Linked DNA regions of Homo sapiens: region 1 is linked to region 2. A link means that fine-mapping ties the variant in region 2 to the expression of a gene that starts in the linked region. Tissue or cell type: blood mononuclear cells. Region 2 holds a variant in brackets; the other region holds the start of a gene. All regions are shown on one strand. Distances are from middle to middle.

What was found. PIP is the estimated chance that this variant, and not a neighbour inherited with it, causes the effect.
Region 1: it holds the start of ARHGAP25, and the variant in region 2 is fine-mapped to the expression of ARHGAP25 in blood mononuclear cells (TOPMed, PIP above 0.99). The same link has a PIP of 0.9 or more in whole blood.

What each region holds. Positions count from the first base shown.
Region 1 is chr2:68,732,370-68,737,522 of GRCh38, forward strand. It overlaps ARHGAP25 (Rho GTPase activating protein 25), which reads left to right and starts at 2,442. Exons shown (of 11, transcript NM_001007231.3): 1 at 2,442-2,891. The coding sequence starts at 2,831.
Region 2 is chr2:68,761,771-68,766,923 of GRCh38, forward strand. All of the region lies in intron 1 of ARHGAP25 (Rho GTPase activating protein 25), which reads left to right. LOC105374790 (a long non-coding RNA gene) reads right to left here and starts at 900. Exons shown (of 3, transcript XR_940225.3): 1 at 836-900. The variant C/T (reference allele first, on the strand shown) is at 2,580.

The sequences.
Region 1 (5,153 bases), 29 kb before region 2:
CAGTTTAAAGGTCCCAGGACTGAAATTTTAGATGGTGTCGAATTCCCCCGTGGAGATGCTGCTGGGCCGGGCCAGACAGCTACCTCTCTCACACCCGCTTAATTAAGTTGGGATACGAAAAAGAGCAGTGGTGTTTGGGTCAGGCAGGCAGTAGTGCAATGTCTCCAAGTAGCTGAGTCAAGTTCAGCGGAATCCAGCTCCCTGGGGAGGCTGGAGGGTAGCTGGGTAGACTGGGTGAGTGTGGTGGATTGGAGTCTTGATCAGCAAACACTCCGGCCCTTCTTCCACCCCTCCGGCCCTTCTCCCTCCCCACTGCTGCTGAGGACTGGGTGTACTTCCGGCCTCACTGACTTTGAGCTTGGCCATGTGACCTGTGTTGGCCAATGGAATGTGAGCAGACAGGGTGTGCGCAGAGGCGTTAAATGCGCTTGCAAGGTTCTTCTCTCTTGTGCTCCTTTCATTCCTGAAGACAGGAGTATACACCAGGTCACCACTGTTCCTTCAGCCTCGTTCTCTGGATATACAGTTTGGATACATTTAGTTTGAGATGGCTACTATAGATCTAAGCAGAGATCCATGTGATTTGGAGTTCAGGGGGTCTGGGCTGGAAATACACATTGGAATCATCTGCAAATATGTGACATTTAAAGCCTTGAGACAGATGAGCTCACCAAGGTGTGAGTGTGGATGGAAAAAGAGTCCAGTCGAGTCTTGGTTTCCTTCAATATTTAGAGGTCAGAGAGATGAGAAGGAATCAGCAAGAAAACAGACACGGAAAAGCCAGAAAGGCAGGCAGACAGCCAGGCCAACCATGGGCCGTGGGAGCCCCATGGACAGAGGGCTCAGAGTTGGAGAGAGCTATCAAATGTGTCCGACACTGCTGATGGGCCCGTGAGATGAAGATGAAGCCCTGACCTGTGAGTTTAGTGACAGGGAAGTCGTAGGTATCCTTGATGAGAATATATTTTGTGGAGTCATAGGGGCAAAAACATCAACCAAGGGATTCGGGAGAGAATAAGAGGAGAGATATTTGCAAGTTAGACAATTCTTACTAAAGCTTGGTTCAGAAATGAAGGAGAGAAATGGGACTCTAGCCCAAGGGGGTGGTGGCATCCAGAGAGATTTTTTATGGGATAAAAAATAGTAAGTTTGAACGCTGACAGGAAGGATCAAAGAGAGAGAAGAAATTGATGATGCAATAGGGATGGGAGAGTGTTAACAGCCAGTTCACCCATTGTACCAAGAATAAGGTCAGGGATACAGCTTGCATGCAGGTAGGTGAGCAGATAGAGTGAGGGAAGCTTGTGGACATTCTCTTTCAGTTACATTGATTTTCTCAATGAAACGGGAACCCAGGTCGTCAGTAAGAGTAAGCAAGTGGCAGGTGAAGAAGAAAGTATGACAGAGTCATCTAGGAGAGTTGGAGAATGAATGGAGCAAGGCGTGCAGCTTAGATGCTGGCTAGCAGTGACTGTTCTGAGCACTTTGTACTGGCTTTTCTACTAAAGCCTCACAACAGCCTATGAAGTAAGCCCTATTATTTGCCCCATCTACAGATAAGAATTGAAGCACAAAGTGGTCAAGAAACTTGTCCATAGTCCCACAGCAGGAAAGCCAGGATTTGACTACCAGTGATCTGTTTCCAGGGCCCAAATGCTTAAGCACTAGGTTAGGCTGACCCAGTTAAACATGAAAGCTTGTCACAGAACTGAACTAAATAGAATAGAATAAAGGTTGAATTAATGTGTGTGGTGCAACCACTCTGTGTCAAGCTCTGCACTAGATTCCTCTGCAAAAACCCTTTGAGTTGTGGTTATTATCAACCCCATTTTACTGATGAGGACATTAAGGTCTGGAAAGATTCAGTTGCTTGTTCAAAAGTTGAAGAGCTAGCAAATGGAAGCCCACACCATGTATACAGCCCACACACCCTGATTCTAAAGCCCACACCCTGTGTACAATGCCAAAGAACCCTTAGGATATGTGAGTGGGTCGACCTAGCTTAAGTTGCTTCATTAAGCCAAATACATCAAAACCCTCCCTACATCAGGCTGAGATCACTTGCAAACTTTATCCTGAGCACCTGGAGAGCTTGCGACATGGTCCTTACAGCAGGAAGAATTTAAAAGAAGATAACTTTGGGGGAATGCTTGTTGTTTTTCTGACCATTTTTGGATGCTTGATCCGTTAGGTGAGGAAGAGGAGAGCTTAGAGTTGAAGTAGATGATGGGAGTTTCGACATTTTCTTCTAATTAAAACTGTAATCTTTTATAACAGAAGCAACCATTCTGGTTTTTCAAGCATTTCCAAAAACCATTTTCTCAAGAAAGAGTGCTCATAATGTATCATCTTCACTGAACAGCCACCCACTTCCTCAAATGCAAGGAAGCAGACAGTTAAAAAAGAAACACACACACACACACACAAAACCAAGAGGCAGCAGTTGTTTATCACGACCTCAACTCAGTAAGGCCTGAGATTCTTTCGAAAAGGAGCTTTGCTTCCCATGACGCAGAGGGAAGTGTCAACTGGGATATTTCTGGTAAAACTGAAAGCAAGAAAAGCAGGGTGCTAGCCCCTGTGGGACTGAGGGTGGAGGCTGGGGGAGTTTGGGTGCCATCCTCCAGTGACAGATGGATGGACCTTTCATCTAAGAGAAAGGAGGAGACACGTTGGCAAATCAGCCTCAAGCCTAAGATTGCTTGTGAAGCAATCATAAGGAGGAACAAAAACAGACACAAAAACAGAGGGAAAGAGTGAAAAGACAAGAAGGGCGCAAACTGTGACAGACTCACCGCTTCACTAACTACTCACTTAAACTGGAAGCAAAATGTCCCTAAAATTGCCAAGGAACTGGGATTTCAACCTGAAAGTGGAGGCTGCGAAAATAGGTATGGTTGGTGTCTTTTCGTTGCCTCTGTGATTCTTACGTATACTCGAGCACCATTTGCATGTTGGTCTGCAGGGAGCATAGTCTACTTAAAAATGGATCTCGCAGCAAATCTGAGTTTGAGGGACCATTTGCATTTAAGTTGGCATGCCAGGTCCAAGTTCTAAAATGCTGGGAGGGGGTTCTCTTTCATTTGGACAAAACAGTGGGATGGCACTCCTTGGTGTGCAGGATCTGGGGTACTTCGGATGATTTAAGGCTACAGACTACACACAAAACTGTGAGTTTTTAGCATATTCCATTTCCTTCCTGTTTGGAAACTCATCCATATTTTGAATGGTTCTGAACAGGAGCACAAAGACTAGAGTCTTTTGAAGTGCTCAATCTGTAAGTAAATTCAATGGGTGTTCTGTTTTGTGAGCCCAGGAGTCAAGGTGTATTAAAAGGTAGTAGCAAAAGGTAGACAACAAAAACAAGACAGGAACATAAAAACGTACTAAAGTATAATAAAGACCTTACTTAATAAAAATATAATTAAAGGAACAGAATGGGAGGGAATTCTTAGATGAGTTGGAAAAGAGATGTATTTTTTATTATTTTAAGGGAGACTGGCATATTTTCTGAGATAGTCTGGCCTTTAATCCATACCCTGTCCTTCTAATGATGATAGTGATACATTAAGTTTAATCTATATATTCGTTATGAAGTTCTTTACATAGATTTCTTCTATTGCTAAATTGGTCACAGTAATTCACATCAGAGCAATCGGGCTGAAAACTATTGCCTACATTTATGTATCTCACCCATACATGAGATAACTTCCTTGATATTAGATATAGATAAGTATTAAGGTGTTTCTAACAGCTTGGAGGAATTTTGCTTGGAAAAAGGTTTAGATTTGAACCTCTAATGGGGTTAAGTGTGCTACTAAAATAAGTGCTCCATTGAAAAGTCACAAGCGGAGCATTAATGATGTAGGTCTGAGAAAGGGTTTGAAAGAAAACAGAGTAATCAGAGAAGCCATTTATCTTGATAACTAGGGGAGATTAGCGTTCCCTAATCAAGCTGTGAATGATTGTATGCTGAGGTCAGTTCAGAGAAAAGGTAATGTTCATACCTCTTACAAAAGCAAGAGATTTTCCTCCTAACTATCATTGATACAAATGTACTTGGCTAATGCTCAATCTATGTCATACAAATTATATGGTTCTGTTCCTTTGAAAGTGTCCTGCTTCTACATAAATAAGGTCATTCTGCCTTCTCTCCACCTATGTTTGAACACAGGTTATTAGGGTCTTACTCTCCTTTGGTTTAAAAAACAAGAAAGTTGAGACAATTAATAGTTAAATGATTTTTTTCACAGATATAGGAAATTACCACACTAGAGCTCAAGACTGCATATACTCAGGTCTGGGATTTGATTGAGTGAATTTCATGATTTTTACCAATGTTTCTTAAAGCATGGTCCCATAGATAACCTATATCAGACTCACATCAAGTGCTGGCTAAAAATGCAGATTTCTGGGCACCATCCTTACAAAATCAGAATCTCTGGAGGAAGGCCCAGGATCCTGCATTTTGACAAGCACCCCCCACTTTCATCCTCACCTGAGGAAGAATTCCTGCTGTAGGTACTGTGGTCTATGTTCACTAGCCCCAGCAGACAGTTTTCACCCATTTAGTATAGGGCACAGTGCTTGTTCTTAACTGGGCACACAATAAATATTTGTTGGCTGAATGAATGCTTCAGCCAACAAAAACAAGCAGATGATGTTATTTAGTATTACTTAATGAAAAAATAATAATAAGGACATAATGAAATACAGAGGAGCCCTTGTCATTATCCATGCTATCTATAAGTTTGTCACCCTGAAGGACTGGACTACAGTAGGATGCATTTATAAGTGTCACATGAACTAGAATTCAGATCATAATCTGAGTCCTCTGATGGGGGAGAGCCCTTGACTCAGTCACAGGACTTCCAGTCCCCTCTCCAGCATCCTGTGTCCAGGTGTAACTGTAGGAACTGGCTTACCAATATATCAAAGAAACTTACCTCTATTGGGAAGACCTGTGGAACTGGGAGTTATGTCAGGAAAGCTGACAATCTGTGGTTTTAACGTTTTCTCAACCTAGATACCATTGACATTTGGGGTTGGATAGTTTTTTGTTGTGGGGCCTGTCCTGTGAATTATAGGATGTTTAGCAGAATCCTTGGCCTCTACCTTCTAGGTGATGGTAACACCCCCCTACCACTACCAGT
Region 2 (5,153 bases):
TTGCACTGTTGGTGGAAATGTTAAATGTTACAGCTACTATGGAAAACAGTATAGCAGTTCCACAAAAAATTAAAAATAGAATTACTATCTGATCCCACAATTCCGCATCTAAATATATACTCAAAGAATTGAAAACAGAGTCTTGAAGAGATATTTGTACATCACGTTCATAGCAGCATCATTTGTAATAACTAAAACATGGAGGCAACCCAGGTGTCCATTGACAAATGAACTGACAAACAAAATGTGGTATATACATTCAATAGAATGTATTCAGCCTTAAAAAGGAAGGACATTCTGCAATATGCTATAGCACCGATGAATCTTGAGGACATTATGCTAAGTGAAATAAGCTGCTTCAAAAAAGACAAATGCTGTATAATTCCACTTATGTGAGGTGCTTAGAGGAGACAAATTCATAGAGACAGAAAGTAGAATGGTGGTTACCAGGGCTAGGGAAAGAAGGAAAAGGAAGTTAACTCTGTAATGGGTACAGAATTTCAGTTTTTCAAGATGAAAAGAGTTCTGAAAATGGATGGTGATGGTTGTGCAATAATGTGAATGTACTTAATACTACTGAACTGTACAATCAAAAATAAGATAGTAAATTTTATGTGTGTTTTACTGGAATAAAAATAATTGGGAAAAAATAAATCACGCAAGTTATAATTTGAGAAAAATAGCCCAAGTCAAATATTACAACTCATTTTTCATCTTCAAAAGCTCTCGTATGCTATTAGATGTGCTAAGCCAGAGGGATTTGGAATTAGGACCGCATCCTGGGGTCCCGGTGTTAGCCTGTTGAGTCACCCCCTCATGGTTCTCCTTCTTTTACCTCCTGTTTGTGCATCTCTGGTTCCTGCTTCTTCAGCCTTTGCACAAAAGCTTAGTTGGTCCTTCAGTGACTACTGGCTAAAAACAAACAGAAAAAGAAAAAAGAAACAAAAATGGTGTTCTTCTAGTTCTTCCATGAGAACTGTGAAGGAGTGGCCAGCCAAAAAGAAATGTCAAGCAGAGGCTAGTGTGTGGGCCAAGAAAGTCCAGGTCAGACAGAAACACTACAGTTGCTCACAGATACATACAAAATAAGTCCTGACATTTTTGTGAGGACCTTGGGTGATAAAAGGGAAACCCCCTAACACATTTTTCAGGCAGCTGATAATGTTTGACAGCTTTGAAGAGGAAACAGAACTACCAGATGTCAGTGGCTGAATCACAGGGAAAATACTGCATTCTGCAAAGCCTTACTCAAGCATCATGAAGTGTAGCCCAAAGTTGATAGAAATGCTGATAAATAATAAAATTTTATGAAAAAGTAAAATCTCGATACTTTTTCACAAGTCACTAGCTGTAACCAAGACAATGATGTTGGCTTTTTTGTATTTGATCATCTTTCATGAATTTTAGAATGCTTTCTTTATCAAACTCTAAAAAATCTTTAACAAAATTGCAAAGTGTCACAGCAGTGAAAATTTTCATAAACTTCACAGCTCTCAATTATATGACACAGTAGAAGTATCAGAAGTATTCTGCTGTGTCATTTTCTGTTTCTTTGAAGATTCTCTGCTGTACTTCATCATTTTTCCATATACAGTTAAAACACCAAGCAAATATTTGGCCTGAATCCTAAAAATGTTTAATTCTTCCAATTTTCTGTAGTTGCATTTTCAGCAATACAGAGCGTTCCTTCAATTCTTCCCTCCCCTTTTTTCGGTTTGAGATACACTTTAACACCTAAGAATGTGATCTTCTGTTCTTTATAACTAACATTTAATATAAACTAATGTTGAATTTATCAAAAGCAAGTTCATAATCTTTGAAAACATAAGACTTTTTAAATTATTGATGGGCTAAACCATTTACTAGTTTTTTAAATATTGAAGTATTCTTGCATTCCTGGAATATTCCAGACATTTGAGTGACAAAACAGTCAAAAATCTCTAACTCTGCAGAGTTTCTGGCATGTTTCACCACATAAAAAGTGTAGAAAATTATTCTCATTTTTTCTGCAGAAACTGTTCTACTCTTCACTGTTTCCATGGTGGGTTTTTTGTGTGTATGGCAGTTATATATATTATTTAGTTTCTAATCTTTCTTTTAAAAACTTTACTGAGGTATAATTTATATGCCATAAAATTCCTTCATTGTAAGTATACAATTCAATGATTTTTAGTAAATTTATAGGGTTGTGTGATGATTACCATAGTCCAGTTTTAGGACATTTTTATTACCCCAAAAAGTTCTCTCCAGCCGTTTTGCAATCAATCCCTGCTCTCACCCTCAGTCCTGGCAACCACTGTCTCTACAGAATTGCCTTTTCTGGATATTTCTTATGCACAGACTCATATAATTTGTTGTCTTTTGCATTCAGGTTCTTTCACTTAGCTGAATGTTTTTGAGGTTCTTTGTGTGGCATGAATCAGTCCTTTGCTCCTTGGTGTTGCCAAGTAGTATTGCGCTGTTTGGCTTTCCCACATTTTGTTTATCCAGTAACCTGTTTGTGGCTTCTGGATTGTTTTCAGTTTTGACCATCATCTATAATACTGCTAGAAACATTCACATTCAAAAACTGTTATGGA[C/T]GTGTGCCTTCACATCCCCTGAATAGATTCCCAGGAGTGGAATTGCTGGGTGCTATGGCAAGCTTATGTGTAACTTTTTAAGACGCATCCAGTTAAGGGGTTAAGGGAGGGTAGCTACCCTCTCTGTTGAAGGAAAGTTCATTTTCTTCTTGTTTTTCTTCTTGTGTAGCTCCAGGTTAGGTGGACAGGCACCCTCTGTTCTCACTGGTATCGTGACCTGGTTGAGGAGCCAGCAGGACAGAGCTGTTACTTTTTGTCTGGCCTGACTTTGGGCACCCAGGGTAAACTGGAAATAACATGCCCCAGCCAGACCTCTGTGCGCACTTGGAAGGAGCTCTCAGGTCTCCATCTGTTCCCTGCCTCCATGCTGCTGCTGTTCCTCTCTAGGTGTTGTTAGTGCAGGATTTTCTTGGGCCCTTTCCGCTCCCTCTGGGGCAGGCTGTTCCATATGCATTGAGTTGTGAGACCAACAGCTTTCTTCAGTTTAGCCTTGCCTATCCTACATCTTGCAGAAATCCGTCTTCCCCCCAAATGGCATGCAGATAGAATCCTTCTTTACTTTTACTTTCATTTTAGATCTCCCCTTGTTATTATTGAGCTAGTCCCTTTGTCATTTTAATGGAAATTTGGAAATGGAAGCTCTTGCCATGAGGTCACCTAGAATTCTAGGTGGTCATTCCTTCCTGAGTTCCCTCACAGACCACCCTTGGGCTCCCTCCGGTTTCTGCTGCCCTTTCTCTCTCTCTGCCAGTAAGTGTTGGGGTAAAAGCTGACTTTACAGGAAATACTATCCATACTGGCAGCCTCAGTAAGTCCCTCAGTTCTTCCCATTCATCAGCTGATAAAGTGACAGTGCAGGGATATGGAGGCGGATCTGTCTGGGAGGGAATGTGTACGTAAGTGGTATAACATCTGTGTAGTGTCATTCCGCTGTGCTCTGAGGAGTAACAGGTCTGAAATGCAGACCTTGGAAAATAGACAAGTTGAAGTTTAGAGCAATAGTTGACATGTAAAAAAAAAAAAACCCAACAAGCCTATTGAATTTATTTTTAAGCCTAATAAAATATTTAAAAAGATCATTTATTATATCAACATTCCAAACACAACAGAGAAAATATAATGAACCCCCATGTAGACCCACTACTGAAGTTCAACAGAATATTTCGTCACATTGTTTTATCTATCCCTTTCTTTTTCTTTTATTCCCTTTTATGCTAAGATATTTTAAAACAAATCCCAGACACATTTTCCCCATGCTTAAGTATGCATCCTTAAAAATATGGAAATTTTATTTTCTAGCCACATTGTCCTGATCACGCCTAACAAAACTAATCAATAATTCATTGGTATCATCTATCCTTTATCCATGATCAAATTGTCTCAGTTTTTAATGAAATCTTTTTATCAGGTTGTAGAATAGGAGAAACATATTATGACTCGTTTCCTGGGCCCACCCCACTGCTAGCATTATTCATTGGTCACTTTAACTCTCAGTAGTGTTAAAGTTTAAAATCACTGTTCCCTAAGACCTGTAGAGGCCCCAGAAACTGACTGGAGTGACGTCTGTTAGGCTGTAATGGCTTGTAGCCTCCTCAAGGGCCAGTGCTTGATGGTAGTTGCCAGTACTTGAGCATTGCCCTGGAAGGGTCCTTCCTGTGAATTACTCAGGCCATATAATTCATCCATGCTTATGCAATACAAATATTTCAAGCATCCTAATGCACTTATTTATTTATGAATGCTAGTGACTAGTGAACCAAAACCTCTTACCTAAAATAAATGACTAGCTTTGGCAATGGAGGGGTCAGTACTTCGATTGCTCTTCCTAATGTAACACACCACTAGGGTGTTGGGCAGAGCTTACTGCACTAATTATCCTGCAGTCCTACCTGATGAGAATTGTTCTTCCTTACACTAACGCCTGGGAAAGCAGGTAGCTTGCATATGCAGTTAACCAGCTACATTGTCAAAGAATTTTCTACAGAGAAAATTTGCCCTCTGATTGCCAAATCTCCACTTTGCCTTGTGCTGAGGAAGAGGCAGCTCTGGGGCAGTGTTCTTCCGCAAGCTTCTTGTTATTACACGTGGCTTCCTGTTATGCAGAGACAGGCGGAGAGGGCTGGGTAAGGTGTTGCAACTGATGGAGACACACAGACCCACAAGAGGCAACTGCACTCTAAATTCCTAAGAAACACGAAAGCCACAAAACATGAACACTGGAGGGGTGGCCCTGGAGAGGCACCCTAGGTGAAACAAATTTGCTGGCGTGCAAAAAAACCTTGCAATATTTGTTGCTGGCTCAGGTTTCCAGAGCTGCTGATAAGAAAGAAGTAACAGAAAGCCAGTACTCCTCTCTCTCTCCCCTTCTCTCTCTCTCTCTCTCTTGTTCTCACTCTCTGTCATTCTCTCTCCCTCTCTCTTGTTCTCACTCTCTGTCATTCTCTCTCCCTCTCTCTTTTTCTCTCTCTCACACACACAGATAATTTCTCTCCCTCTGTCTCATATTGCTACCAAGACAGCATTTTTTACCTCTTCCTGCAGAACACATAGTTATTGGTGCCAAGCCCCTTTCCA